Linked DNA regions of Homo sapiens: all the other regions are linked to region 1. The links come from fine-mapping of genetic effects on gene expression. A gene starts in region 1. Each other region holds a variant in brackets. All regions are shown on one strand. Distances are between the middles of the regions. Region 1 holds the start of RRP12 (ribosomal RNA processing 12 homolog). Region 2 overlaps RRP12 (ribosomal RNA processing 12 homolog). Region 3 overlaps ARHGAP19-SLIT1 (ARHGAP19-SLIT1 readthrough (NMD candidate)).

The links.
Region 2: its variant is fine-mapped to the expression of RRP12 in monocytes (TOPMed, PIP above 0.99).
Region 3: its variant is fine-mapped to the expression of RRP12 in left ventricle (GTEx, PIP 0.97).

Annotation. Positions count from the first base shown.
Region 1 is chr10:97,396,430-97,406,492 of GRCh38, reverse strand. RRP12 (ribosomal RNA processing 12 homolog) reads left to right here and starts at 5,153. Exons shown (of 34, transcript NM_015179.4): 1 at 5,153-5,400; 2 at 5,959-6,188. The coding sequence starts at 5,262. RefSeq lists an enhancer at 5,620-5,669.
Region 2 is chr10:97,348,307-97,358,390 of GRCh38, reverse strand. RRP12 (ribosomal RNA processing 12 homolog) reads left to right here. Exons shown (of 34, transcript NM_015179.4): 34 at 1,195-1,690. The coding sequence ends at 1,297. Among named protein-coding and RNA genes, the nearest start is that of FRAT2, 19 kb to the right of the region's middle. The variant A/G (reference allele first, on the strand shown) is at 5,362.
Region 3 is chr10:97,199,976-97,210,059 of GRCh38, reverse strand. All of the region lies in intron 11 of ARHGAP19-SLIT1 (ARHGAP19-SLIT1 readthrough (NMD candidate)), which reads left to right. LOC112268065 (a long non-coding RNA gene) reads right to left here. Exons shown (of 3, transcript XR_002957098.2): 3 at 6,339-6,775. Among named protein-coding and RNA genes, the nearest start is that of SLIT1, 19 kb to the right of the region's middle. RefSeq lists an enhancer at 6,314-6,913 and a silencer at 7,590-7,649. The variant G/A (reference allele first, on the strand shown) is at 4,930.

The sequences.
Region 1 (10,063 bases):
TAAATAAAGGGAAAAAAAGAACAAGAATCGGAGACTTAGAGAGGTTAAATCCCTTGCTTGGTTTATAGGTAAAGTATGTCCTGTCTTGAACCCACCACTTTACCTGCCTTCTTTCAGCAATTACCCCAAGTCTAGACCTCTGGTTGTGAGCACAGCTCGCTTATAACAGTTTCCACATTCTGCTTCCTTTTCCTCCCCCAGCCACCAGTTCCCTTTTCTCAGCCTTCCCACTGAGGTCTCAGCCTGTGACCCAGGCACAGGGCCCCACTGGAGGATGATAATGTCTTCAGAGACTTGGAAGGGCTGGGGCCTAGAGTCTGAACTGACTTCAGTCTTCTCTGCAGCGACGCTTTCTCACATTAACACACTTTATGCTCTCTCTGCTCTAGGTGAGAGGACCACTTTTTTTTGTTGTTTTTTGAGACAGAGTCTCACTCTGTCACCCAGGCTAGAGTGCAGTGGCTTAATCTCGAGTCACTGCAACCTCCGCCTCCCGGGTTCAAGCGATCCTCCCACCTCAGCCTCCGAGTAGCTGGGACTACAGGTGTCTGCCATCATGCCTGGCTAATTGTCATATTTTTTGTAGAGACGGGGTTTCACCATATTGCTCAGGCTGGTCTCGAACTCCTGGGCTCAAGTTATCTGCCTGCCTCAGCCACCCAGAGTGTTGGCATTACAGGCGTAAGCCACCGCCCCCGGCCCACTTTGTATTTTCAGTAAGCCCATGAAGTGTAATATACATGTAAGCAGGGCATGGTGGCTCACGCCTATAATCCCAGCACTTTGGGAGGCCAAGGCGAGCAGATCACTTGAAGCCAGGAGATCGAGATTTGTCTGGGCAACGATAGCAAGATTCTGTCTCTTTTTTTTTTTTTTGGAGAAGGAGTCTCGTTCTGCTGCCCAGGCTGGAGTGCAGTGGTACGATCTCAGCTCATTGCAACTTCCGCCTCCTGGGTTCACGCCATTCTCCTGCCTCAGCCTCCCGAGTAGCTGGGACTACAGGTGCCCGCCACCACGCCCAGCTAATTTTTTATATTTTTAGTAGAGACAGGGTTTCATTGTGTTAGCCAGGATGGTCTCGATCTCCTGACCTTGTGATCTGCCCGCCTCGGCCTCCCAGAGTGCTGAGATTACAGGCGTGAGCCACCGCGCCTGGCCAAGACTCTGTCTCTTAAAAAAAAAATTAGCTTGGTGTGGTGGGTATGTGTCTGTAGCCCCAGCTATTTGGGAGGCCAAAGCAGGAGGATGACTTGAATTCAGGAGTTTAAGGTTATAGTGAGCCATGATCATGCCACTGGACTCCAGCCTGGGTGACAGAGTGAGGCCCTAGCTTTAAAAAAAAAAAAAAATTAGCCAGGCATGGCAATGCATGCCTGTGGTTCCAGCTACTCGGGAGGCAGAAGTGGGAGGATTGCTTGAGCCTGGAGGTCAAGGCTGCAGTGAGCCATGATTGTGCCACTGCATTTCAACCTGAGTGACAGAGGAAGACTCTGTCTCAAAATAAATAAATAAATAATTAAATCATAAATAAATGGGATTATAACTATGTACTCTTGTGTCTGGAGTCTTTTACTCAACCTAGGTCATGCATGATATATGTAGCAGTAGTTCCTTCTCATTGCTATACAGAGTCAAATACTATAGTATTCCATTATATATCAATATGTCACAATTTATCCATTCTACTCTATCTCTCTGTCTGCCTGTCTGTCTTATCTATCTATCTATCTATCTATCTATTCTAGACACAGAGTCTCACTGTGTTGCCCAGGCTGCAGTGCAGTGGCATGATTATAGCTCACTCTAACCTTGAATTCTTGGGCTCAAGTGATCCTCCTGCCTTAGTTTCCCAAGTGGCTAGGACTACGGGTGCATGCCACCACATGTGGCTAATTTTTAATTTTTTTTTAGAGATGGGGTCTCACTATTTTGCCCAGATTGGTCTTGAACTGTTGGCCTCAAGCAATCCTCCTGCCTCAGCCTCCCAACGCACTAAGATTACAGGTGTGAACCAGTGCATCCAGCCTCATTCTACGGTTGATGGACATTTTATTATTTCCATTGTGAACATCCTCCTATATCTCTTTTTTGCATATAAGTAAACATCTCTGTTGAGTAAATATGCAGGAAGGTATTGCTGGGTCATGGAGCAAGACTGTATTCAGTTTTAGTAGATACTACCACACAGTTTTCCAAAATGGTTGTATCACTTTATACTCCAATGGCAGCATATGTTGCCAGTTTCTCCACATCCTTACCAACATTAGTATTGCTAGTCTTTTTAATTTTAGCCATTCTGGTGGGTGTGTAGTGGCATTTCATTGTGATTTTAATTTGTATTCCCATGTTGATAATGAAACTGGTATCTTTTCTGTTCTGGTCTGTTCTTTTTCTTTTTTTTTTCTTGAGACAAAGTCTCACTGTGTCACCCAGGCTGGAGTGCAGTGGTGCTATCATAGCTTACTACAACCTCAAACTCCTGGGCTTAAGAGATTCTCCTGTCACAGCTTCCCAGGTAGCTGGGACCATGGGTGCACGCCACTGCACCCCACTATTTTTCTTAGTTTTTGAGGAGACAGGTCTTGCTGTGTTGGCCAGGCTGGTCTCCAACTCCTGGGCTCAAGTGATCCTCCTGCCTCAGCCTCCTAAAGTGCCGGTATTACAGGCGTGAGCTAGCATGCCTGGCCTGTTTTTCATATATTTATTGGCCATTTGGATATTAATTTTTGTGAAGTGCCTGTTCATGACTTTTTTATTTTTTGTACAATACATCATGATGTTCAGCTGTTTGTGTCTTTTGCCATTCTTCTTTTTTTTTATTTTTGAGACACAGTCTCGCTGTGATGCCCAGGCTGGAGTGCAGTGGCACGATCTCAGCTCACTGTAACCTCCACCTCCAGGGTTCAAGTAATTCTCCTGCCTCAGCCTCACAAGTAGCTGGGACTACAGGTGCCCACCACCACGCCCAGCTTAATTTTTTTTGTATTTTAGTAGAGATGGGGTTTTTCACTATGTTGGCCAGGTCTTGAACTCCTGACCTCGTGATCTGCCCACCTTGGCCTCCCAAAATGCTGGGATTACAGGCGTGAGCCACCACACCCAGCCGCCCATTCTTTTTTTTTTTTTTTTTAATTTTTTTTCTTTTTTGAGACAGGGTCTCACACTGTCACCCAAGCTGGGGTGCAGTGGTGCAATCACGGCTCACTGCAGCCTTGACTTTCTCTGGGCTCCCACCTCAGCCTCCTGAGTAGCTGGACTACAGGTTCACACCACCATGCTCAGCTAATTTTTGTATGTTTTGTAGAGACTGGGTCTCATGATGTTGCTCAAGCTGGTCTTGAACTCCTGGGCTGGAGCAATCCTTCCTCCCCTCTACTCCCTGCCCCCCGGCCTCCTACGGTGTTGGAATTCCAGGCCAAGCATCAGCCACTGCACCCACCTGTCCCTTTTGCCCATTCTTTTTATTGGATTGTCTGCCTTGTTCTTATTGATTGGTAGGAATTCTTTATATATTATAGATGTACTTTGTTAGTTCTATATATCTTCTTCCAAAGAATGCTGCTAAAGGTTTAGAATAAAGCTGCTGGGCAAGAGGGAAGAGAAATGTGTCTTTTGTAAGGTTTGGGATCTGGTTGAAGGATTTTAAGGAGGGTCTCAGGGGAGTGGGGATAAACTGGATCGGTTGCTGGTTCTGAGGTGGAATTAGGAGAACTGGGAATTGGCCGGATGCCAGGTGCGGTGGCTCATGCCTGTAATCCCAGCACTTTGGGAGGTGGGCAGATCACCTGAGGAAAGGAGTTCGAGACCAACCTGGCCAACATGGTGAAACTCTGCGTGTACTGAAAATACAAAAAAAAAAATTAGCCGGGCGCGGTGGTGCATGCTTGTAATTTCAGCTACTTGGGAGGCTGAGGCAGGAGAACTGCTTGAACCTGAAATGTGGAGGTTGCAGTGAGCCGAGATCGTGCCACTGCACTCCAGCCTGGGCACCAGAGCAAGACTCTGTCTCAAAAAAAAAAAAAAAAAAGAGAGAGAGAGAGAGAAATTGGAGAACCAGGGATTAATTAGGGATGGAATGCTGTCATAAGGCAAGGTGGCTTAGCAACTGAGTATCTCCAGTAATAAATGAAAATAGCAAAGCTTGTCTAGAACACCACTGACTGCTTTTTTCTCTTTTCAAGTCAAGCTAATTTTCACACTTTCAAGTCTCCATAAGTTTTGACTTTTCTTTTTTTTCTTTTTTTCTTTTTTTGAGATGGAGTTTCACTCTTGTTGCCCAGGCTGGAGTGCAATGGCGTGATCTCAGCTCACCGCAACCTCTGCCTCCCAGGTTCAAGCGATTCTTCTGCCTCAGCCTCCCCAGTAGTTGGGATTACAGGCATGCGCGACCACGCCCGGCTTATTTTGTATTTTTAGTAGAGACAGGGTTTCTCCATGTTGGTCAGGCTGGTCTCGAACATCGTGACCTCAGGTGATCTGCCCGCCTCGGCCTCCCAGAGTGCTGGGATTACATATATACTTTTATATGAAGGTATATGACTTTCATATAAATGTGTTTCTATGCTTAATTTTGAAAATAGATTTTCAAATGTAATATAAATGTACTTTTTGTTGTTGTTTAACTGCAAAAGAACTCCAGTTTTTTGTTTGCTTTGTTTTGTTTTTTTGAGACAGTCTTACTCTGTTGTCCAGGCTGGAGTGCCGAGGCGTGATCTCGGCTTACTGCAAACTCCGCCTCCCGAGTTCAAGTGATTCTTGTGCCTCATCCTCCCGAGTAGTTGGGATTACAGGCGCGCGCCACCAAGCCCAGCTAATTTTTTTATTTTAGTAGAGACGGGGTTTCACCCTGGTGATCAGGCTGGTCTCAAACTCCTGACCTCAAATGATCCACCCGCCTCAGCCTCCCAAAGTATTGGGATTACAGGCATGAGCCACCACGCTCAGCCAAACTCCAGTTTTATAAGGCTTACGCCTGTGGCCCTGAAACCTGGTCCTGGCTGGAGTAAGAACCCCATAGAACCCTTAGCAACCTAACTTCCTCCCTAGCAACGGATCTCCTTGGAGCTCCTCCCCATCCGAAGCCAGGAGGAGGTGTAAAACCGGATGTTGACTGTTTTACCATAGTAATGCACACGAATCCGGAAGTGACGCCAGAAGAAGAGGAAGTGAAGGCTACAGGGTATCCACGTGGGTTCTGAGCGTGTTTCTACGTCCCTGGAAGCCGGTCATTTAAGCTCATTCCTCGCCACGGCTTAGTCAACATGGGTCGCTCGGGAAAGTTGCCTTCTGGTGTCTCAGCTAAGTTGAAGCGCTGGAAGAAAGGCCACAGCAGCGACAGCAACCCCGCCATCTGCCGCCACCGTCAGGCCGCCCGCAGCCGCTTCTTCAGCCGGCCGTCAGGTAGCTGGGTTGAGACCCGAGCGCAGCCGGGGGCGGGGTTCCAGGCAGACCTGGGTCCAGATGAGTCTGGGGCCTCTGGGAGAGTGCGGGGCCAGGCATTGGACCTTTCGTCTCTTAGGATGTCGGATCTGGAGCCCTCTCTGAAGGGCAGTCCTTCCAATTTAGCAGATACAGAAACTGAGGTCCGCAGTAGGGAAATGTCTTGTGTAAGGTACCGCGGGTGTCAGAGTTGAGACAGATGGCTTGGACCTTGGGTAGCTCTTTACAGAGCGCGTTCACCTTCATTTATTTTGCAGGCCCTCTGAATGTAGCTCCCAGCCGATTCCCAGTGGCGTTTATGCCGCTGCTACAGGGAAGCAGAAACTTTTACATGGAGGATTCCCTTTCTCCTTGGTTTTTCAAGTTTTTAGGCATACAGTGGTTTTATGAGACTGGCTGTGTTCAGAATTCAGCCTCTCGGGTTGGAGATTTGGCCTGGGCTGGTTTGTTTCCCAGGGGTTGTTCTGTTCTCTTGACCAAAAGGAGGCTTGGACCTTATCTTGTGCCTCTGGCTCTCAGGAAGGAGTGACCTGACAGTCGATGCTGTGAAGTTACATAATGAGCTGCAGTCAGGGTCCTTGCGCTTGGGCAAAAGCGAAGCCCCGGAGACGCCCATGGAAGAAGAGGCGGAGCTGGTTCTCACCGAGAAGTCCTCGGGTACCTTCCTGAGTGGCCTTTCCGACTGCACAAACGTCACCTTCAGCAAAGTACAGCGCTTCTGGGAGTCCAACTCGGCTGCCCACAAGGAGGTAGGGGCGAGGGTCGGGAGGGCCATAGGATAGTGAGGAGAGGCCAACTCATGCCTTTTCTTCAGCTCTGGCCGACAGGTCTCCGATGACAACAGCTGGTATTTCTGGATGATGCGTCATCGCTCCTCCCCTTTATGTCTCCTCCTAGGGCAGGTTCTACTTTCTGCTTTTTATAAGAACATCTCCTCTGCTTAAGTACTTGAGGGTAGAAATATTTTCCAAACATTTCTCTCCTCAGCTATACCTAACACAGCACTTTTACACAGAGTATTTTCAATAAACATATGTTGAGTAAATAAATGCTGAGTAACAGTGATTAGGAAACGTTTTATCTAGCAAGAACTAAATTTATTTACTTTAATTTAACTTAATTCATGTATTTATTTTGAGACAGAGTCTCGTTCTGTTGGCCAGGCTGGAGTGCAGTAGCGCAATCTTCACTCACTGCAACCTCCATCTCCCAGGCCCAAGCAATCCTCCTGCCTCAGCCTCCCAAGTAGCTGCCATTACAGGCATGTGCCACCACGCCCGGCTAATTTTTTTTTTTTTTTTTTTAGTATATTTAAATAGTGCATTATTCAAGTAGCTAATTTTTTGTGTGTGTGTATTTTTAGTAGAGACGGGGTTTCACCATGTTAGCCAGGCTGGTCTCAAACTCCTGAACTCAGGTAATCCGCCCACCTTGGCCTCCTAAAATGCTGGGATTACAGGCATGAGCCACCGTGCCTGGCCTTACTTTTATTATTTTATCTATACTATAAAGTTATATATATTTTTTGTTATTGAAATAAAAAATGTCAAAATTCTAAATGATATCAAAATGATATAAGAATAATATAATGTGATGGTAGATCCCCCAACTTGAATCATTCACAGAGCTCCTGTTAATGGGTCATTGTCTGTCTTCCTGGACCAGCTCTGTCCAATAGTAATCTAAATTCAAGCCACATATGTAATTTAAAAATGTTTAGTAGCCATATTAAAAACTGAAAGAAACAGGTAAAATAAATTCATCTTTTTATTTTTTTCTGGAGCCGGAGTTTCGCTCTTGTTGTCCAGGCTAGAGTGCAATGGCACGATCTCGGCTCACTGCAACCTCCGCCTCCTGGGTTCAGGTGATTCTCCTGCCTCAGCCTCCCGAGTAGCTGGGATTAGAGGCGTGCGCCACCATGCCCGGCTAATTTTCTGTTTTTAATAGAGACAGGGTTTCTCCATGTTGGTCAGGCTGGTCTCAAACTCCTGACCTCAGGTGATCCACCCGCCTCGGCCTCCTAAAGTGCTGGGATTACAGGTGTGAGCCACTGCGCCCGGCCCAAATTAATCTTAATAATGTACTTTATTTAACTCAGTATCTTTAAAATATTATCACTTCAATGTATAATCAGTATATTTTACTACAGCATTATTTTTATGATACCAAGTCTTCAAAATCTAGTGTATAATTTACCCATATACCCCTACTTAGATGCTAAATTTTCATTGGAAATACTTGATTTGTGTCTATTTAGAGTTCATAACATTTATGGTTGTACAAGTAGATTTGCCTACTATGAATTACTACGAACCTATTTGCCAGGTTGTTACAAATATATGTTTTCTAGTAAATAGATCAAATATTTTAAATTATGAGTAGTTGAAATTTAAAAACTAAATTTTCAGGCTGGACATAGTGGCTTACACCTGTAATCCTAGCACTTTGGGAGGCCGAGGTGGGCAGATCATTTGAGGTCAAGAGTTTGAGACCAGCCTGGCCAACATGGTGAAAACCCATCTCTACTAAAAAATTAGCCTGGCATGGTGGCATGCGCCTGTAATCCCAGCTACTTGGGAAGCTGAGGCACGAGAATCACTTGAACCCTGGAGGCAGAGGTTGCAGCGACCCAAGATCGCACCACTGCGCTTCAGCCTGGGTGACAGAACGAGACTCTGTCTCAAAAAAAAAAAAAAAAAAGGCCGGGCGCGGTGGCTCACGCCTGTAATCCCAGCACTTTGGGAGGCCGAGGCGGGTGGATCATGAGGTCAGGAGATCGAGACCATCCTGGCTAACAAGGTGAAACCCCGTCTCTACTAAAAATACAAAAAATTAGCCGGGCGCGGTGGCGGGCGCCTGTAGTCCCAGCTACTCGGGAGGCTGAGGCAGGAGAATGGCGTGAACCCGGGAAGCGGAGCTTGCAGTGAGCCGAGATTGCGCCACTGCAGTCCGCAGTCCGGCCTGGGCAACAGAGCGAGACTCCATCTCAAAAAAAAAAAAAAAAAAAAAAAAAATACGTATATATATATACATATATATATATATATGTATATATATATACGTATTTTTTTTTACCCAATTTTGTTATTTAGGTTTACCAAAATGTGATTAGTTTCTTTTCTTTTCTTTTCTTTTTTTTCAGACAGAGTCTCACTTTGTCACCCAGGTTAGAGTGCAGTGGCTGATCAGCCTTCCAATTCCCAAGTAGCTGGGACTACAGGGGAGTGCTACCATACCAAGCTAATTTTTGTATTTTTTGTAGAGATGGGGTTTGCCATATTGCCCAGATTGGTCTTGAACTCCTGGGCTCAAGGGATCTGCCCACCTGAGCCTCCCAAAGTGTTGGGATTACTGGTGTGAGCCATTGTGCCCTGCTTGATTAGTTTATTTTTTATCCACTGTTCTGCAACTTTTTCCCTACTGAACGATATTTATAAGTTAATATATAGTTGTTCTCATTCTTTTGAATAATGCACTATTTAAATTTTTCATTATTATATAATGATACAGTCAGGTCTCTATATTTGCGGGTTCTGCACCTGCAGATTCAACCAAGCATGGATTGAAAAATCTTTTTAAAATAATAATAATATACCAGGCGAGGTGGCTCACGCCTGTAATCCTAGCACTTTGGGAGGCCGAGGCGGGCAGATCACTTGAGGTCAGAAGTTCAAAACCAACCTGGCCAGCATGGTGAAACTCCATCCCTACTAAAAGTACAAAAAATTAGCCTAGCGTAGTGGCACATGCCTGTAATCCCAGCTACTCAGGAGGCTGAGGCAGGAGAATCGCTTGAACCCGGGAGGTGGAAGCTGCGGTTAGCAGAGAGTGCGCCACTGCATTCCACCCTGGGTGACAGAGTGAGACTCTGTCTCAAAAACAACAACAACAACAACAACAACAAAAATACAGTATAACAACTATTTATATAGCATTTACATTGTGTTAGGTGTTACCAGTAATCTAGAGATGATTTAAAGTATATGGGAGGCCAGGCATGGTGGCTTATGCCTGTAATCTCAGCACTTTGGGAGGCTAAGGAGGGCAGATCACTTGAGGCCAGGAGTTCAAAACCAGCTTGGTCAACATGGTAAAACCCCATCTCTACTAAAAATACAGAAATTAGCTGGGCATGGTGGTGCACACCTGTAATCCCAGCTACTTGGGAGGCTGAGGCAGGAGAATTGCTTGAACCCAGAGGCAGAGGTTGCAGTGAGCTGAGATCATGCCACTGCACTCTTGCCTAGCTAACAGTGAGACTCTATCTCAAAAAAAATAAATAAAGTATATGGGAAGATGTATATAGGTTATACACAAATACTACACCATTTTTTATAAGGGACCTGAGCATCCTCGGATTTTGGTATCTTTAGGGGTCCTGGAACCAATCCCCCCCTCGATAACTGCAGTACATTAGAGACAACTACAGTACATTATTAATCTCCTGTTGATGGCTTCTTGACCATTCCAATTTGTTGCTGCCATGAACATCCTTGTACATAAATATTTGCACACTCATCTCATGCAGGTATTTCTAGAAGGTTAGTACCTCATGGTGGAATTTTAGCAAGCATTTTCTGAGTCTTGTTATTTGCTGGGCCCCCTGGTATGGACCTAGGCCCTG
Region 2 (10,084 bases), 48 kb after region 1:
GTAGCTGGTACCTACCTGTATTACTGACTTGAACTGCTTCTTTATTTTTTTATTTTTTTGAGACAGAGTCTTGCTCTGTCGCCAGGCTGGAGTGCAGTGGTGCGATCTTGGCTCACTGCAATCTCTGCCTCCCAGGTTCAAGCTAGTCTTCTGCCTCAGCCTCCCGAGTAGCTAGGACTACAGGCGCGTGCCACCATGCCCAGCTAATTTTTGTATTTTTAGTAGAGATGGGGTTTCACCGCGTTGGCTGGGATGGTCTCGATCTCTTGACCTCATGATCTGCATGCCTCAGCCTCCCAAAGTGCTGGGATCACAAGCACGAGCCACCGTGCCCCGCCCTGAACTGCTTCTTTAAACATGATATTATGTCATACAGATGTTTTCTGGTATTTACATACTCTACATAGTCATCTTTTTTTTTTTTTTTTGAGACGGAGTCTCGCTGTGTCACCCATGCTGGAGTGAGTGCAGTGGCACGATCTCGGCTTACTGCAAGCTCTGCCTCCCGGGTTCACGCCATACTCCTGCCTCAGCCTCCGGAGTAGCTGGGACTACAGGCACCCGCCACCACACCCGGCTAATTTTTTTGTATTTTTAGTAGAGACGGGGTTTCACTGTGTTACCCAGGATGGTCTTGATCCCCTGACCTTGTGATCTGCCCACCTCGGCCTCCCAAAGTGCTGGGATTACAGGCATGAGCCACCACGCCCAGCCATAGTCATCATTTTTAATAGCTTTGTATAATTTGCTTTTCTAATCCCTTTATTGGTAGGAAATTAGAGTTGTTTCCGACTTTGGCCCTTAAATTGGGTTATGTGTAGGACTGCTTTGGAAACTAATGTTACTAGGGAAATGGTGTTGTAAAGTTCTAGCTTCTGCGGGTTGTAAGTTACCTTTCAATGGAGGGATGGGTGGGCAGAGGGAGCTTTGACCTTCTCTGGACATACATTAGAGGAAAAATGGAAGGGAGGCCTGTTTCCAGGGGGATAATTGTGCCAAAGTGGAATGTCCAGGTCAGGACATGAGCCGTGTGGAAGCTGGAACCACGTGAGGTCTGCCTAGTTCATGTGCTGGCCACCACCTGGAGGCCCCCTTCTCATCCCTGCTGGCGCTGGGGGTGAGCCATCATTTGGCAACAGGAGGGGGCCTCCTATTCTCAGCCAGATGTGACCCTTCCGTTCCTTGGCCCTGCAGGAAGAAGATGAAGCTGCAGGGACAGTTCAAAGGCCTGGTGAAGGCTGCCCGGCGAGGTTCCCAGGTGGGACACAAAAACCGCAGAAAGGATCGTCGACCCTGAGGCCCAGGGCCCCTGGGCTGCCCTGTGGTCCAGTCTGAGGCCCTTTCAGCCCCCAGGCTGCCTTGCCACCAGCTCCAGGTGCTCAAGATTCTGGCAGAGCCTGGACTCAGGATGACTTGGAACTAGGGCTTGGCTCTCAGAAGTCCTGGATTTTGGAAACTCCAAATGGAATCACCCTTCAGAGACATCCCTGGTGCCTGGAGATGGGAATGTGGCCTCAGTGCCTCTGAGTAGGTGCCATGAGGCACCTTTGCTTTCTGCCCAGAGTGGCCATGAGCACCAGAACAGATGATCTCCATTTCCGCCAGCTGCCTGTAGCCACGTGGCATCCTGCCTGTGGTCTGGGTGAGATTTACTGTGACCAGATGTAGAATAAATGTGTCTCATCCTGCATTTTTTTTCTAGAAACTGTTTCATAGTCTGCCCCCTCCAGGGGTAAGAACAGTGTGCAGTTGTTGGCAGCAGTGGCCTGACCTCTTCCTGTCTAACTCCTTACATCCAGTCCAGGGCATATCATAAGGCTTTGCCCATAGGACAGGCTTTGGAACTTGCCCGGGAGCACCCACCTGTGTCAGGAGGGGCAGCGAATGCCCCAGGGCTGGTGTCGGGAGCTGCAGTTCAGCACCAGGGACTGCCCCAGCTGTCCTGGGCACAAGTCTCTCCAGCATCTTTGTTCATTGATTCAACAAAGTATTTGCTGAGCCCCTCTAAGTGCCCAGCATAGCCTTGTTCATTCACCTCCGTGTCTTCCCACATTCTTTTTTTCCCAGACAAGGGGATCTGTTTGTGTAATGTGATTCACTGGGCCAGCTTTGTTGGTCTGGAGCAGAGAAGGGCATGGCACAGAAGTCCTGAGGTCACTGTCCTGTCAGCCCAGGTCCCCTCATGTGGATACAATCCCACAGGCAGCCAGAAGCAAAGAACCCCAGCACTGTTCCCACACCCCAGTATGAGTGTGCTTTGTGCCCTAGCACCTGACTGATACATTCTTCCCATCTCAGATCCTCCCAACGTGAGGCGAGCACATGCACACATTCCTCGTTTCCATTCTAGTTTAAGGCACTTGGCTCTGATAATGGTCCCAGGAGGCCCTGTGCACCTCCTGGCAGCCTGTCCCACCACACTCTTCCACTCATTATCTAAGGGGACCCAAGTCTTAATTGGATCTGGCGCTCCCCAAATTAGGGCATTTCCTCCCAATGATTTGGGGCTAGGAAAAGCTGAAAGGAACCACACTCGGCCCAGAGGTGGCACTGTTTACATGCCTTGTTCACAGAAATCTAGAATTGGAGAGCAAGCAAGAAAGGTGGTCAGGAGTGGCTAGGAGAGATTTGCAGAGGGGATCTAACCATACTCCCCGTTGTTACACTTCTGGACACAAGTTGGGCCGAAGTAAGCCAAGCCCAGTCCTTCCTGTTTCCTTTCTCAGGAAATGTGACCACGTGCACTGGGAAGCTTTGTGTAAAGTAGATAGGGGTATGAGCCAATTGCCCAGCATTGGTGTTTTGTTTTTTGTTTGTTTGTTTGTTTTCACAGAGTCTTGCCCTGTCACCCAGGCTGGAATGCAATGGCGTGATCTCAGCTTACTGCAACCTCTGCCTCCCAGGTTCACACAATTCACCTGCCTCAGCCGCCTGAGTAGCTGTGATTACAGGCACCCGCCACCACGCCCAGCTAATTTTTGTATTTTTAGTAGAGACAGGGTTTCACCATGTTGGCCAGGCTGGTCTCGAACTCCTGACCTTGTGATCCGCCCACCTTGGCCTCCCAAAGTTCTGGGATTACAGGCGTGAGCCACTGCGCCCAGCTTATTGGTGTTGTTTGTTTGTTTTTTAAAAAAAGGCCAGGCACGGCTCATACCTGCAATCCCAGCACTTTGGGAGGCCGAGGCGGGTGGATCACCTGACCAACATGGAGAAACCCCATCTCTACTAAAAATACAAAATTAGCCAGGCATGGTGGTGCATGCCTGTAATCCCAGCTACTCGGGAGGCTGAGGCAGGAGAATCACTTGAACCCGGGAGGCAGGGGTTGGGGTGAGCTGAGATCGCATCATTGCACTCCAGCCTGGGCAACAAGAGTGAAACGCCATCTCAAAAAAAAAAAAAAAAGAAAGCGTGAAGCCAACCTCCTTGTTATATATAGCACATTTTCCAAGGAACTTTGTTTTCTTTTAAAGATGGGAAAGGCAGGTGACCTAGAAAGGTTGGTGTTAGTGATGTGCTGAATGCCATATTCTTTTGGAAGTAGACTTCAAATGCAAGTGATCTTGATGCAGAGGCAAGAATTAATCTTCACCCTGAAACTTCAGGTGTATTTTGAAAGTCAGTGTTCTTGAGGCCGGGCGCAATCACTCACACCTGTAATCTAGCACTTTGGGAGGCCAAGGCAGGTGGCTCACCTGAGGTCAGGAGTTCAAGACCAGCCTGGCCAACATGGTGAAACCCTGTCTCTACTAAAAATACAAAATTAGCTGGGTGTGGAGGCACACACTAGTCCCAGCTACTCGGGAGGCTGAGGCAGGAGAATTGCTTGAACCCGGGAGGCGGAGGTTGCAGTGAGCTGAGAGCGCGCCTTTGCACTCCAGCCTGGGTGACAAGAGCGAAACTCTGTCTCAAAAAAAAAAAAACAAAGTCAGTGTTGTTTCAACAGTGTGGCGAAAGAGAGTCTTAGGAGTGTTCATCAACAAAAGATTCATCCAATTTTAGGGTGAATAGGAAAGTTGAGAGCTCTCACTCTCCAGATTTTCAATTTGTGCTTTTGGGAATGTCAATCTGAGGCTTGCTTTTCTGGGGTCCATCCTCCACTCATTCTCAGAAATGGAAAACAGGTCCTACCCTGCTTGACTACGAAAACCGCAACCCTGCAGTTGGCCAAGGGAGTGGTCAAGCTTTGGGGATTTGCAAAGGCGGTCTAGTCATGTCCACATTGTGACACTTCTGGCCATGGGTGAGTCAGGTTAAACTGACCTTGCCCCTTCACTATTTCCCTTCTCGTGATTGTGGCAGAAGGCTTGGTGGGGACTGTCCTGGCAGTTCATTCCTGCCAGTGGCCATCTTTAGAGCTAGTCCTACTTACAGCATGATCAGTCCCAAGAAGGGTGTTTTTTCTGTACTGTTTGCAACATGTAACAAAATTGCTTATGAAGTTCAGGTAGCCTGTTTTCAGTCCTCAGAGTCCTTTCCCCATTTTTTCTTTCTTGGTTGCTTATGTTTCCTCAAAGGGTAATTTTAAAAATTAAAATCGTATATATTTCACTACAAAAGTGATAAAGATTCCCAGAACATTTGGAAAAAACAAAAGTAAAAGTAGGGGCTAAAATCCTTCCACCAAATTCTGTTATTACTAGTGCATTTCATTCTTTTTTTTCTTAATATACGTAGGGCTATTTTTTTTTTAATTAAGGAAAAAATGTAAGGCCAGGCACAATGGCTCACACCTGTAATCCCAACACTTTGGGAGGCTGAGGCGAGAGTATCGTTTATGCCCAGGAGTTTGAGACTGGCCTGGGCAATATAGTGAGTCCTTGTCTCTACAAAAAATTAGCCAAGCGTGATGGAGTACACCTGTAGTCCCAGGTCCTCCGGAGGCTGAGGTGGGAGAAGAGCTTGAGCCTGGGAAGCAGAGGTTGCAGTGAGCCGATATCATGTCACTATACTCCAGCCTGGGCAACAGAGTAAGACCCTATTTCAAAAAAAGGAAAAATGGGGCCAGGTACGGTGGCTCATGCCTGTAATCCCAGCACTTTCGGAGGCCAAAGCAGGTGGATCATCTGAGGTCAGGAGTTTGAGACCAGCCTGGCCAACATGGTGAAACCCCGTCTCTACTAAAAATACAAAAAAATTAGCTGGGCATGGTGGTGCGTGCCTGTAATCCCAGCTACTTGGGAGCCTGAGGCAAGAGAATTGCTTGAATTTGAGAGGCAGAGATCGCAGTGAGCCGAGATCACGGCACTGCACTCCAGCCTGGGCAACAGAGCAGGACTACATCTCAAAAAAAAAAATGTTTTAAAATGCAAGTTTACACTTTATATATATATATGTGTGTGTGTGTTTTGAGACAAG[A/G]TCTTGCTCTGTCATCCAGGCTGGAGTGCAGTGGCACAGTTACAGCTCACTGCAGCCTCAAATTCCCTGGACACAAACAATCCTCCTGCTTCAGCCTCCTAAAGTGTTAGGATTACAGGCATGAGCCACCATGCCTGGACAATTTGTGTTCTAAATTTGCACTTGACTAAAGTTCTTACCGTATACTAATGTAAATGCTTCATAAAGATCATTTCCTTTTCTTTTCTTTTTTGAGACGGAGTATCACTCTTGTTGCCCAGGCTGGAGTGCAATGGCGCGATCTTGGCTCACTGCAATCTCTGCCTCCCAGGTTCAAGTGATTCTCCTGCCTCAGCCTCCCGAGTAGCTGGGATTATAGGTATGCACCACGACGCCCAGCTAATTTTTGTATTTTTAGTAGAGATGGGGTTTCTCCATGTTGGTCAGTCTGGTCTTGAACTCCCAACCTCAGGTGATCCGCCCACCTCGGCCTCCCCAAGTGCTAGGATTATAGGCATGAGCCACTGCACCCGGCTATAAACATCATTTTCAGTAGCTCAGCTTTAAACATCTGCCCAGCGGACATAGTTCAGTTTACAAAGCATCTTTGAGTCCATAAGTATGTTGTTCTTTGCTGTATGCAGGAATTTAATGCCATCACTAGATGCCAGACCGTGTGCAAAGGAGTATTTAGAAAATGCCGTGATGACTACTCTATGTTCTATTTTCGATATACATTATTGTGAATAGATAGATGACTGTACTCCAGAAAATAACCCTGATTTGGGACAATGTAAGCTGGTTTGCCATTTCCTGAAATTATGCTTGACGTAGCTACTGCCATTAGAAACACCAAGCTGTTAGAGGCCAGCTGAGTTATCCAAGGCCAGGGATGCAGTGGCACATTTCCTCCTCCCATTCCAAATCTCAATGATTCGTCATGGAAATGCCTGGATTTGGGTTTTGAGGCCGTGGTCAATCATCAGTAAATACTGACTAAGAACGTAGGTAGATGGTGTAGTGGCTTGCTGCTGCATACTCATTCCAGGGCTGAGGACTGGAGATCAGCTTTACAAGTCTAAAATTGGGATTGATGCTGGGTGCAGTGGCATGTGCCTCTAGACCCAGCTACTTGGAAGGCTGAGGTGGGAGGATCACTTGAGACCAGGAGGTTGAGGCTGCAATGCACTTTGGTCCAGCCTGTTATAGTCACTGCACTCCAGCCTGGAACTCTAAATAAATAAATAAGGATAAAATCAGGATTGATCAGGTTCAGAGAAGAAGATACAGATTCACATGAGACCTAGTCGAAATTATAATATATTAATTTATAATGAGAACTATAACTGCCCAAGATACTCAAGGTGACTGCTCAGCACATGCTCCCTTGCATAGGAAGCTGAAACCAGTGTGTTTTCTGTACTGGGGGCATAAAACAGGGCAAATGGAATCATGCAAGTGATATGTGAATAATATTGTCATTGGGGTGGGACAGTTTTGTCTCTGGGGATATATCTGCCTACAGGGGCCCATTCTCCTAGCAGCCTGTTGGGGCCCTGCCCCTCTATTTTGGTTGGCTGCAGAATGGAACAGATCCTTCCTCTCTGGTATCTTGTAGGGCCTTTGCAGCCATTTACCTGCTGTTCAGAAGCTGTTCTGAGATTTTTTTTTTTTTTTTTGAGGCAGAGTTTCGCTCTTGTTGCCCAGGCTGGAGGGCAGTGGCACGATCTTGGCTCGCTGCAACCTCCGCCTCCCAGGTTCAAGCGATTCTCCTGTCTCAGCCTCCCAAGTAGCTGGGATTTACAGATGCCTACCACCACTCCCGGCTAATTTTTTGTATTTTTAGTAGAGACGGGGTTTCAGCATGTTGGCCAGGCTGGTCTCGAACTCCTGACCTCAGGTGATCCACCCACGCCTCAGCCTCCCAAAGCGCTGGGATTAGAGGCGTGAGCCACCAGGCCCAGCCTGTTCTGAGATTTAGTAAGGCTTCCTTCACAGGCAGGCATGCCTGGATTGAATTTCCAAGGCCAGTTCTGGCTTTCACCAGAGAGACATCCTGTTCCTTCTGGGGCCTTGTTCAGATAACTAATCCTGTCCCTCGTGTAGACTTGAAGGGTTTAACTTCCAGAGGGCAGCCTGATTTCCAAATTCCAGGGATGTCACCCATCACCCATTACAGAGCTGATGATTTTAAGTCAGAATTTCAAAGAGGATGTGAGGCACTGATGACAGGCAGATGGATTTGCAACTGGTGCCAGGAATAACCTGTATAGCCCTCATGGTCCTCCACCAGTGAAGGTTCTGCAAGCTCTTGGAAGTCTTGGTTTTTTGTTTGTTTGCTTTTTTGAGACAGAGTCTCAATCTGTCACCCAGGCTGGAGTGCAGAGGCATGATCTCAGCTCACTACAACCTCTGGGTTCAAGCAATTCTCCTACCTCAGCCTCCCAAGTAGCCGGAATTACAGGTGCATGCTGCCACGCCTGACTAATTTCTGTACTTTTAGTAGAGATGGGGTTTCACCATGTTGGCCAAGCTGGTCTTGAACTCCTGACCTTAAGTGATCCGCCCGCCTCGGCCTCCCAAAGTACTGGGATTACAGGTGTGAGCCACCATGACCGGCCAGAAGTCTTGTTTTTAACCAGAACAGTTGCTATGCCATAGCTCTTGGACTTGAGGCCACTGAGCCTGAATTACATACACAGTAGATAACCTGAGACCAACCCTCAGTTGTAAATATGCTCATAAAAATGACAAGGCACAGTGTTGCCCTGAGCAGATTTTATGTGTATCGATTGGATCATTGTGTGATAATACTTATCTAAAAACGCCTTCATTCATCATTCCAGCAGCTAGTTCAACTCCTCGAAGAAGATGGGGTGCTCCAAAGCAAACACTCATAATTATCAACTAGCAAAGCTGACATCTAGTATTCTGAGAAAATTCCTCCCTGCTCACATGAGGACTATCACGTGGGTCCTGTAGGGGTTCCTCAGGATTTCACAAAGGGGTCTAGCGTCTGTTACATGCACAGTCACACCTGCCAGATTTGAATCTCCTGCACAGGTACGGTGGCAGTTACAATTGGAGCTTGTACGGAGCTCTCCAGCTTACCAAACACATTCACACCCACCATCTCTTTTGATCCTTGCAACAGTTGCCCTGTTTGCATTGTGATTATGGTTATCTTTATCATGATTCCCACTTCGCAGCTGAGAACTGAAAGGCAGAAAGGATGCATGGTTTGGGCAGAGTTATGCAGGTAGCAGAAGGTAGCACCCAGGTCTCTGGAGTTAAAGCCTATGCTGCTGCAGCCTGCTGAAATTAGCCCCCGGGGAGGGCACAGTGTTGCAAAGAGGCTTGGCTGTGAATTTCCAAATGCCATGTGAAGTTGGACACCAGCGTCTGTTCTCCCTCCCATTCATTACCCTGCAGGCTCTTTGCTCCCAAAGCTCTGCTACTCTGGGATAAAGACCAATTACAAAACAGGTCTGTTTATACTCAGTGAGAGGTGGGTGAGCTTGAACAGCGTGAACTTGACATGAAGGGAAGGGCTGGGCTGGGCTGGGCATTCCTTCGTGTCTCTTCCAAGGAGGGGGATGCAGCTGGCCTGCAAGTCTCTTTCCGCGATCTTCTTGCACATTTCTTTTTTTTTTTTTTTGAGACAGAGTCTCACTCTGTCACCCATGCCGGAGTGCAGTGGCGCGATCTTGGCTCACTGCAAGCTCCACCTCCTGGGTGCACGCTGTTCTCCTGCCTCAGCCTCCCGAGTAGCTGGGACTACAGGCACCTACCACCACGCCCGGCTAATTTTTTGTATTTTTAGTAGAGAGGGGGTTTCACCGTGTTAGCCAGGATGGCCTCGATCTACTGACCTCGTGATCCGCCCGCCTCGGCCTCCCAAAGTGCTGGGATTACAGGCATGAGCCACCGCGCCCGGCCTCTTCTTGCACATTTCTTATTCTCTCTCTCTCCCTTACACACACACACACACACACACACACACACTCTCTCTCTCTCTCTCTCTCTCTCTCTCTCTCATTGGGCATTTATTCTGAGCAAAGGACTTCCAAAAAGACATTTGGTGAGGGGTGAGAGATAGAGTAGTAAGCAATGCAGGCAGGATCCTTGCCTTCACTAAGTTTATGAGGAGCCAGAACAAATAAATAAAAAATTTAATAAAACACATGATTAGGATAGTGTTGGCCGGGCGCGGTGGCTCACGCCTGTAATCCCAGCACTTTGGGAGGCCGAGGCGGGCGGATCACGAGGTCAGGAGATCGAGACCATCCTGGCTAACACGGTGAAACCCCGTCTCTACTAAAAATACAAAAAATTAGCCGGGCGAGGTGGCGGGCGCCTGTAGTCCCAGCTACTCGGGAGGCTGAGGCAGGAGAATGGCGTGAACCCCAGGGGGCGGAGCCTGCAGTGAGCCGAGATTGCGCCACTGCACTCCAGCCTGGGCGACAGCGAGACTCCGTCTCAAAAAAAAAAAAAAAAAAAAAAAAAAAAAAAAAAAAGGATAGTGCTATGAAGGTTCGGCATGGATATCATGCTGGGTCCTGGTTTGGGCAAGTGAAGGGAGCCATAGCAGGAGGGCCTCTTGGAGTGGCATTTAGCTAAGACCTGGAGGATGAGTAGGCTTTAGGGTGGCAAACAACCAAGGCTCCTACATTTCCAGAAACCCGGGACCAAGGGCAGCAGTCACTTGCAGCTTGGAAGGTGGGCTGGGGCTGGACTCATGTGG
Region 3 (10,084 bases), 200 kb after region 1:
ACAGGCACACACCACCACGCCCGGCTAATTTTTGTATTTTTAGTAGAGACGGAGTTTCACCATGTTGGCCAGGCTGGTCTCGAACTCCTGACTTCAGGTGATCTGCCCGCCTTGGCCTCCCGAAGTGCTGGGATTACACATGTGAGCCACTGCACCCGGCTGACAAATGACTTGTGTTCTGCACCCAAGGGGAACTGATTCCACAACGTACCCCCTCATCACCCCCTAGCCTTGGTCCACCATTGGTCCTCGCCATCCTGGAGCTTCCATTCTGTTTCAAGGATGAGGAATCTGAGCCTAGAGAAGCACAGTGTCCCCACTTCTGTCACATGGGTGCTAGCGGCAAACCTGGACTAGAAGTCAGGTACCCCAGACTCCCTGCCCAGTGCTCTTTTCACTGGGTCATTCTGTTTTAGCAGTGGTGGCCATGGCAGCCATTTCTGTTTCTCATGTCTCTAAACCCTAAGCCTGAGACAGTGACCAAGGGCCCAACCCCTGCTATGTCATTTATAGTCTGAGCATAGGGCTGGGACCAGAGGAGGCCCCCAGCAAATTGTTGAGTGAATGTTGAAAGGAAGGAAAGAAAATGCCCTCCAGACATTTCAGAAGCTCATCATTCCTGGAGGTGGGGGGACCTCAGCCAGCCATCTGGTGGCAGACTAACTACATTGGACCCCTTCCACCATAGAGGGGACATCAATTTTGTCCTCACTGGAACAGACTCTTATTCTAGATATGGATTTGCCATCTCTTCCCAAAATACTTCTGCCAGTGCAACCATCTGTGTCCATGGAATACCTCATTCACTGTCATGGAATTCTACATAATATAGCTTCTGTCTTGCTCTGTCGCCCAGGCCGGAGTGCAGTGGCACGATCTTGGCTCACTGCAACAACCTCCACCTCCCGGGTTCAAGAGATTCTCCTGCCTCAGCCTCCTGAGTGACTGGGATTACAGGCACCCGCCACCACACCAGGCTGATTTTGTATTTTTAGTAGAGATGGGGATTCACCATGTTGGCCAGGCTGGTCTCAAACTTTTGACCTCAAGCAATCCACCCGCCTTGGCCTCCCAAAGTGCTGGGATTACAGGCATGAGCCACCGCGCCCAGCTGTCTTTTTACTTTCTTATTGTGGCTCCAGAAAATGTTGAATTACCTATGATATCTGAATAGCTAGTATATGTATATGGCACCAGATTCAAAAGGTATGAAAGGATATTGAGACTCACAAAATGGAAGAAAATATTTGCAACTTATATATCTGACAAGGGAGTAGTGTCTAGGATATATAAAGAATTTTTTTTTTTTTGAGACAGGGTCTTGCTCTGTTTCCCAGGCTGTTGTGCAGTGATGTGATCACAGCTCACTGCAGCCTCAACCTCCTGGGCTCAAGCAATCCTCCCACCTCAGCCTCCCCATTAGCTGGCACTACAGATGTGTACCACCATACCTAGCTAATTTTTTGTAGAGATGGGATCTCGCTGTCTTATCCAGGCTGGTCTCACGTTCCTGGGCTCATGGGCTCAAGCCATCCTCCTGACTTAGCCTCCCAAAGTGTTGGGATTACAGGCATGAGCCACTGAGCTTGGCCAAGAATTCTTACAACTCAACAATAAAAAAAAACAAATAACCCAATTTAAAAATGGGCAAGGATATGAATAGACATTACTTCAAATAAGACGTACAAATGTCCAGTAAGTGTATGAAAAGATGTTCTGCTGCTTGAATCCAAAGAGTGTTAGTTCATGTCCTGTCCAGGAGATGATTTCCCCCACCTTGACTTTCCCCAGTGTCATTCAAGCCCCAGCTTTTAAGATCCCGCCCCCTAGAAGCCTTCTCTCTCCAGGCAGAGCTCTTGGCTCCACTAGCTGAATTCCCACAGCAGCATGAACGCATCTCTTCTGGAGCCCTGGTCACGTTGCACAGTGTTTATGTGACTGCTTTTCTTAGAGATGGTGAGCTCCTGCAGGGAAGGGATCAGTTCCTATTCACCCTTGCATCTCCCTGGCTTAGCAGGGTGCCTGGAACACAGCAAAGACTCAGTGTCTGGCTGGCTGGCTTGCAGGAAGGACAGCTGTCTCTATTTTTAATTTTTTTAGAGATAGGTTCTCACCTGGGCTGGAGTGCAGTGGTGCGATGACAGCTCACTACAACCTTGAACTCCCAGGGCTCAGGCGATCCTCCCACCTCAGCCTTCTGAGTAGCTGGGACCACAGGCACGTACCACCATGCCTGGTTGCCGCCTCTATTCTGGACTGAGAGTAGGAGACTGTAGCAGGAAGTCAAACCTGATTAGGTAAAGACCACGGCTCAGAAAGGTTAGGGAACTGCGCAGAGAGTTCTGGAACTGTGGCTGCCTCCATCTTACTAGAAAGATGAAACTGCTTTCTGAACCTGAAAACTCACCTATCTGGCTTGTAGATCTTTTAATATTCTAGGTTCCTGACTGAATGGGACGCCCATGAGTCACTGTAGGGGGGGCACAGGTCTGAGGAGAGGCAAGGCAGTGAGTCCCTAGGTTTCAGCTCAAACAGAAACCCTTTGAGCTCTGAAGGGGCATGTGCTTGCCATAGGAGGGAGCACCTGCTGGTCCTTCCCTCTCTGGCTCTGGTGGGTTGTTTCTGGAAACCCTTGGGTCCTAAGGAAACCCTTTCTCAGTCTGCCCCATTGGCTGAGGGCAGATGTGGGAGATGAAGGATGGGCAGGGGCCCTGCTCCATGAACCCGCACTTGGCCCGCCCTGGGGAGCCAGCAGGGTGCTCTGTGAACCCACACTTGGCCCACCCTGGGGAGCCGGCAGGGTACTCCATGAACCGGTACTGGGCCCACCCTGGGGAGCTGGCAGGGGTTGCTGGGCTCACCACCTCCTGTCTCTACAACCCCCAATCGCTGGCCGCTCACAAGTGGCCATTGGATGTGTGAGAGAGATTTCCACAGAAAGTGTTTCTGTGGCTGCCTCATTTTAATTAAGTGAACCTGGAATTTAAGGGTTAGCTCCTCGGTTTTGGGGTGAGCCTCTTGTAGAAATCCATCTCTTGTAACTCCCAGTGTTGGCAAGTGTGTAGTGAGATGGGGACCCTCACACCTGCTTGGGGTCGGCGGGGGGCTTTTCTGGGTAGTTTGGCAATAAATATCAAGCCTCAGACATTTCCCCTTGTGTTATCATTTATTTTTTAGGTGTGATAATGCGGTTATGTTAAAAACAGTCCTTTTGTTGTAGAGATACATACTGAAATATCCATGGGTGAACTACACAGCAAACAAATCTGGGATTTGTTTCGGCATCATACATTTGGGGTAAGGAGCGTGGGTGGGGTATAGCTGAGAAAAGCTTGGCTGTGGGTCAGCTGTTGTGGATGCTGCTGGATGAGGGGTTCAGGAGTTCATGGTACTGTTCTGTCTACATTTATTTATTTTTTAAAATTCCATAATAAAAAAGTTCAATTAAAAAGTCCCCTTTGACTTGGCATTTCTACTGTGATGACATCAGTCCAAACCCCCAGCATCACTCACCAGGCTTCCCTGTTTTCATTCCCATCCCTCCTCGGTTCAGGGGGATCATGCCCCATCTGCATCTCCACTCACAGCCCTGGGATCCCTAGGGCCCACCTGCCCCCAGGCTTCCAGATCCCAGAGCCTGTGGGTGCTCTCTGGCCTCAGCATCAGGGACACTCTCCCTCCACCCCCAAACCCCTCACCTGGATGGTGACTACTCATTCATCTGATGTCAGGTTGGTGTCATCTCAGGGGAGCTGCTGACTCCCAGGCAAAGTCACACTTCTCTAATACTCTCCATCCTTCATGGATGGGTCCTTCATAGCTCTCACTATAATTTGTAACTATAAACTCTTTTTTTAATTAATTATTTTTTTGAGACAGGGTCTCACTCTGTTGAGGCTGGAGTGCAGTGGCATGAACACAGCTTACTGCAGCTTGGCCTCCCAGGCTCAAGTGATCCTCCCACCTCATCCTCCCAAGTAGCTGGGACTACAGGCACATGACACCACGCCCGGCTAATTTTTGTATTTTTAGTAGAGAGGGTGTTTCATTATGTTTCCCAGGCTGGTCTTGAATTCTGGGCTCAAGCGATCCGATTGCCTCAGCATCCCAAAGTGCTGGGATTATAGGAATGAGCCACCACACCCTGCCCTGATAAGCTCTTGTGATTGCTTTTGTTTCATTGCAGTCTGCCTCCTGTACTAGACTGTGAACTCTCTGAGGGCAGAGACTATGTCCGTGTGGCTTACCACTGCATCCCAGAGCCACACACAGAGCCTGGCACATAGTAAATTAATGCAGAAGGGGACACGTGTTTGACAAACATGTATCATGTTCCAGGCAAACTCTGTGCATATAGTTGGCTGGCTGAGAACATACAGTTGGAAATGTTAGGCAAGGGCCACATCACAAGGGCCTTGTGGCAACATTAGGGGACTGGCCGGATGGTGCAGATCCAGGGAGCCATTGAAGGTGCTCAAATGGAGGAGTGGCATGTGCTCCAGGCAGCCCCTCTGGCTGTCTCATGTTGGAAGGGAGACCCTGGAGGCCGGGTAGCCAGATGGGCTGGCACTGGGGTCCCATGGGGGCTTGAGCTCAGGCCAGGGCAGTGGTGATGGGGGCGGGAACGGAGCCAGTGTTTGTGGCAGTGATCCGATGTGGCAGCTTCTTGGCCCTTCTTCCCTGAAGAAACAGTGCCTCTGCACAAGAGAGGTGGGTAGGAGCTGTATAGGGCCCTGCTGGGGACAGAGTATGTTCCACAGACACATCCCTGGATCACAAAGAGGTTTGCAAACGGTCACTAGGAAGTGATTATACAGCACGGTGCCTTGGGGCAGGGGTAGGGGCAGGACCCTTGTCCCTGAGGCTAGGGAGTTGAGGCTCATGATGGCAGAGCCTGGCAATGGTGAAAGGCAAGTCACTTGTTCGGCA[G/A]TGCATTTTAGGGTTCCATGCAGAGCCAGCCGAAGGAGCTTGGGAGACCCTGGAACCTGAGAAGCCACTGGGGCCTCTGCAGGCCTCCTGGTTGGGTCTTCAGCTGGAGCCCAGGAAAGGCTGCTCCCAATAAGTGGCGATGTCATCAGCTGGGTGTGTGCCGCCCACCAGCATTGCGCTTCCCTGGGACCTGCTGTACCGCTGCTGTCCCAACGCATGTGCCACACTTGCTGTCTGTCCCCTAGGAAGCTTGTAATTGGCTGCAGGGCAGCCAAGTCACTCAGCTCCTCTCCCTGTGGGAAGTGGCTGTGGGGAGGCCAGAGGGTTGGGAGGATGCCGAGTAAAAACTATATGATAGCTACATAGACTGAAAGCTAAGTCGTGCCAAGCCCAGTGTTGGGCTCTTTAAATGTTACTCATTTGACCTGAGCTAGGTCTCCTTTCCCTCTCTCCAGTGGAACTCTGTACTTTTAAAACACTTCTCACAGTTGTAATAGAGAGAATCGTTCATGTGTTTATTTATGTAACATCTGTCTTTCTCGCTAGACTATTAACTCCACGAGGGCAGCGATTGGGTCTCTGTCCTCTACTGTAGCTTCAACACCTAACACACTGCCTGGCACAGAATTGGCTGCAATAAGTATTCATTAAATCAATGAATGATCCCCCCAAAAACCCAATGAAGTAGGTACGATTATTATTATCCTTGTTTAAGGATGGGCAAACTGAGTCTTAGAGAGCTTGAATAGTCCAAGCCACAGACCAGGAAGTAGCACCCAGAATTCAGACTCACATGATTAGCCCAAGGCAGGGGTATGTGGCCCAAGGTTGGCCAATAAAACTCGAGCTGGGGAAAGTGAGACTGCTGTCCTTTTTGTCCCTTGGCTATTGGGATGTGAGACTAGGGTTGCTGGTGGCCATACTTCTAGCCTAGTGGGGCAGCTGGCCTGAGAGTATGGAGCATGCAATGATGGGAGAGAGACAGAGAGCTGGCGGGAGAGAGAGAGAGAGAGAGAGAGACTGATTCTGAGTTCCTGGATACCCTGTGGCTTGGGCTGGCCTAGTTCCCCTTCCTTGCACTTGTAGCGGAGAGTTCCAATGGGCATAGTGATGAAATCTATCACCACCATTGGTGTAGTGGAAAGAGAATGTCCTGGGCTTCAGTTCCAGCTCCACTGGGCACTCAGTGTGTGACACAGCGAGTCCCTGTTGATCTCTGGGTCTCAGCTTCCTCAGCTATAAAATGGGGTCATGACTTCCAGCTCCTAAGCGGTGAGTGGGAATAATGAGAGAGTACTAAGGTCTGTGACTCGGTGCCTGCTAGCCAGCAGTTGCTCAGGAAGCGTGAGCTGTCCCTTGTAGGTGGCTTTTGGTTGCAAGTAATAGAAAACTCATCCAGGACCAGTGTAAACAATGAGGGCTTTCATCTTTATAGGCCACAAAAATATCAGGGGAAGGGCATGTCCAGGGTGGTGAATCCAGAAGCTCAGCATTGTCACCAATAACCTGGGTTCTTTCTTTCAGCCTTGCCATTCTCACCGTGGCAGTCATTTCCCTCGAGGTTGCAAAATTGCTGCCCCAGCTCCAGGCATCACACAATGTTGGCCTGAGGAGGAGGTGTTTCTTCTTCATGTCCCTTTGTAAGGGTGAGGAAAACCTTCCCAGCAGCTCCCAGCAGACGCCTCGTCAAGTTTTATTGGCTGGGATTGTCATTCGTCTAAGCCAGTCATGGTGCTCTATTCCCTTGTGAATGCTAGCATCGGTGTAGTGGAAACAGGATGGCCTGGGGTTCAGCTCCAGCTTCACTGGGCACTCAGGGTGTGACAGCATGAGTCCTCTTGTCTGACTGGACAGACAATGGTGGTACTTAGAGCGAAATACTCAAAGAGAAACTCAGCTACTTTTATAGCAAAACTTCCTTGCATTTCTTTATAATTTCACCCAAGAGTGCCTTCTTAAACTCTACAATTTAGTCTTACCCATGTGCAAACTTTTAAAATAAATTGTAATTGTAGTAAGAAACACAATATAAAATTTACCATCTTAACCATTTAAAATGTATAGTGTAGTAGTGCCAAGTACTTTTTCATCTTGCTGCCTGGGCAACATGGCGAAACCCCATCTCTACAAAAAAATGCCAGCATTTATAAGGGAATATAACACCATGATTGGCTTAAACAACAAAGACCCCAAGGGGCCAGGGTGAGAGATGGAATGAAATTTGTTTGGTGAGCAAGGAGCAAGGGGAGCGTGACTGTGTCTGCCGTGTTTGTTCACTGACATTCCCCAACCATCTCACACAGAGCCTGGCCATGGCAGGCGCTCAGCAAGTCCTCACTGGATAATCGAATACGTGCCCAGGCCTTCTTTCCATCCAGCAGGGTAGAGTCGGGGGAGCAGGTTCTTAGGTGGAGGGAATTCTTCAGATGACTGTGGTGATGCGTCTTTAAGAATCTTCTAGGCCAGGCTGGGCATGACGGCTCATGCCTGTAAATCCCAGCACTTTGGGAGGGCAAGGCGGGCAGATTGCTTGAACCTAGGAGTTTGAGACCAGCCTGGGCAACATGGCGAAACCTCATCTCTACAAAAAATTAGCTGGGCCTGGTGGCGGGTACCTGTAGTTCAACCACTAGGCTGAGGTGGGAGGATCACTTGTGCCCAGGAGGTCGAGGCTGCAGTGAGCCATGATCTTGCCACTGTACTCCAGCCTGGACAAGAGTGAGACTCTGTCTCAAAAAAAGGAAGTTCCAGGCCTTAGGGGAAGTACCCAGGACCTAGGACCCAGACTCACTGGCTTGTTAGGGACCTGCGGAGGAGGTTTTGGCTCTCAGTGGGGCCAGAGGGGCCAGGTTTGCATGGCTGCCTCAGTTCTTCTAGGTCTATTCTAGTTGCTTGGAGCATTTTTTTTTTTTTTTTTTTTTGAGACGGAGTCTCACTCTGTCACCCAGGCTGGAGTGCAGTGGCGCTATCTCAGCTTACCGCAACCTCCGCCACCCAGGTTCAAGCAAGTCTCGTGCCTCAGCCTCTCAAGTAGCTGGGATTATAGGCACCACCATGCCCAGCTAATTTTTGCATTTTTAGTAGAGGCGGAGTTTCACCATGTTGACCAGGCTGGTCTTGAACTCCTGACCTTAGGTGATCTGCCTGCCTCAGCCTCCCAAAGTGCTGGGATTACAGGTGTGAGCCACTGTACCCAGCCAGTTGCCTAGAGCTTCTGAGCAGCAGGCAAGGAGGGTGAAGAGGAGGGAGCAGGTGGAGGGAGGTGAGGTGGCTCCTCTAGGAGGGGTCTAACGGCTGCAGAAGGTGGCAGGTTTCCTTGGGCAACAGCATGCAAACGGTGGCAGCTGGGATGGGAGGACCAAACTCTCTTGTCAATCTAATATTTAGTTCATTCAGTTTCTCTTCACTGAGCACCTGCAATGCGCCAGGCATGTGCTAAACCAGGAGATAAAATGACGAGCTAATACAGGCATGACTCCTGCCTTCTTGGAGCTTAAAGCCTAGCGAGTGAGGCAGATATGAATCAAATAATTCTAAAAGTAAATTTAAATTGTGACTACGGTAATCCACTTTTGGCCTCCCAAAATGCTGGGATTACAGGCGTGAGCCACTGTGCCCGGCCAAGTATTTTTAAAGTATATACATTGCCTTTTAAAACACAATAGTAATTGCATGCTTAAGAGACTACAGTGTAGGGTAAACATAACTTTTATATGCACTGAGAAACCAACAAATTCATGTGACTCGCTTCATTGCAATATTCTCTTTATTGTGGTTGTCTGGAACTGAACCTACAATATCTCTGGAATATGTCTGTATTTCCAGTAAATTGGTAAATCTAGAGGCTTGATCAAATTCAGGTTTTGATTTTTTGACAACTATAGGTGATGGTGTGTTCCTTCCTCAAGAGGAGCACATAATGTATTATTTGTGTGTGTGTGTATGTGTAAAGGGAGTGACGTTCACAGCTGCTGATACACAATGCCTAGATTCATTCATTAATTGGTGGGTACAAAATGGTATCACTCTAATTTGATCATTCCTTTTTCATTAATTAGCTGCAACATCTTTCTTAGCAGTCAGCCAGTAGAGAGAAGCTAAACTATAACCAGTGCAATACCGCTTTTTTGTATCTTATTGTATTTATTTTTTGAGACAAGGGCTTCCTCTGTTGCCCAGGCTGGCATGCAGTGGCATGATCATAGCTCACTGCAGCCTCGAAGCAGGCAGATCACTTGAGCCTAGGAGTTTGAGACGAGCCTGGGCAACATGGCAAAACCCCAAATCTCCCTCAACATACAAAAATTAGCCAGGCGTGGTGACATGCACCGGTAGTCACAGCTACTCAGGAAGCTGAGGTGAGAGGATCACTTGTGCCCAGGAAGTCAAGGCTACAGTGAGCTGTGCTTGTGCCACTGCACTCCAGCCTGGGTGACACAGCAAGACCCCGTCTCAAAAAAAGTAAAATAAATAATAAAAAATAAAGTGGTGAAAGTTGTTACTTTCAGGAGAGGGAAATGGGGACGAGGAACTGCCATTTTCATAAAAAATCTTGCAGAACAAGTTGTCCATTTATGTCCATGGATAACTTTGATGAAAAATAAAAACTAAAATGAAAGGATAAGGCACAGAAGGAGCACGGGCTTTGTATGACACAGACCTGCGTTTGAGTCTGGAATCCCTTACTTCGTTAGCAGGGTGTTTATGAGTCACACGACCTCTTTGAACCTTGGTTTTCTTACTTTATTTTACTTTTTTTTGAGACAGAGTTTTGCTCTTGTCGCCCAGGCTGGAGTGCAATGGCATGATCTCGGCTCACTGCAACCTCCATCTCCCGGGTTCAAGCGAGTCTCCTGCCTCAGCCTCCCGAGTAGCTGGGGATTACTGGCACGCACCACTATGGCTGGCTAATTTTTGTATTTTTAGTAGAGATGGAGCTTCGCCACGTTGCCCAGGCTGGTCTCGAACTTCTGACCTCAAATGATTTGCCTGCCTCAGCCTCCCAAGTTGCTGGGATTACAGGCGTGAGCCACCTCGCCCAGCATATTTTATTTTTTTGAAACAGAGTCTGGCTCTGTTGCCCAGGCTGGAGTGCAGTGGCGCGATCCTGGCTCACTGCAACCTCCGCCTCCCAGGTTCAAATGATTCTCATGTC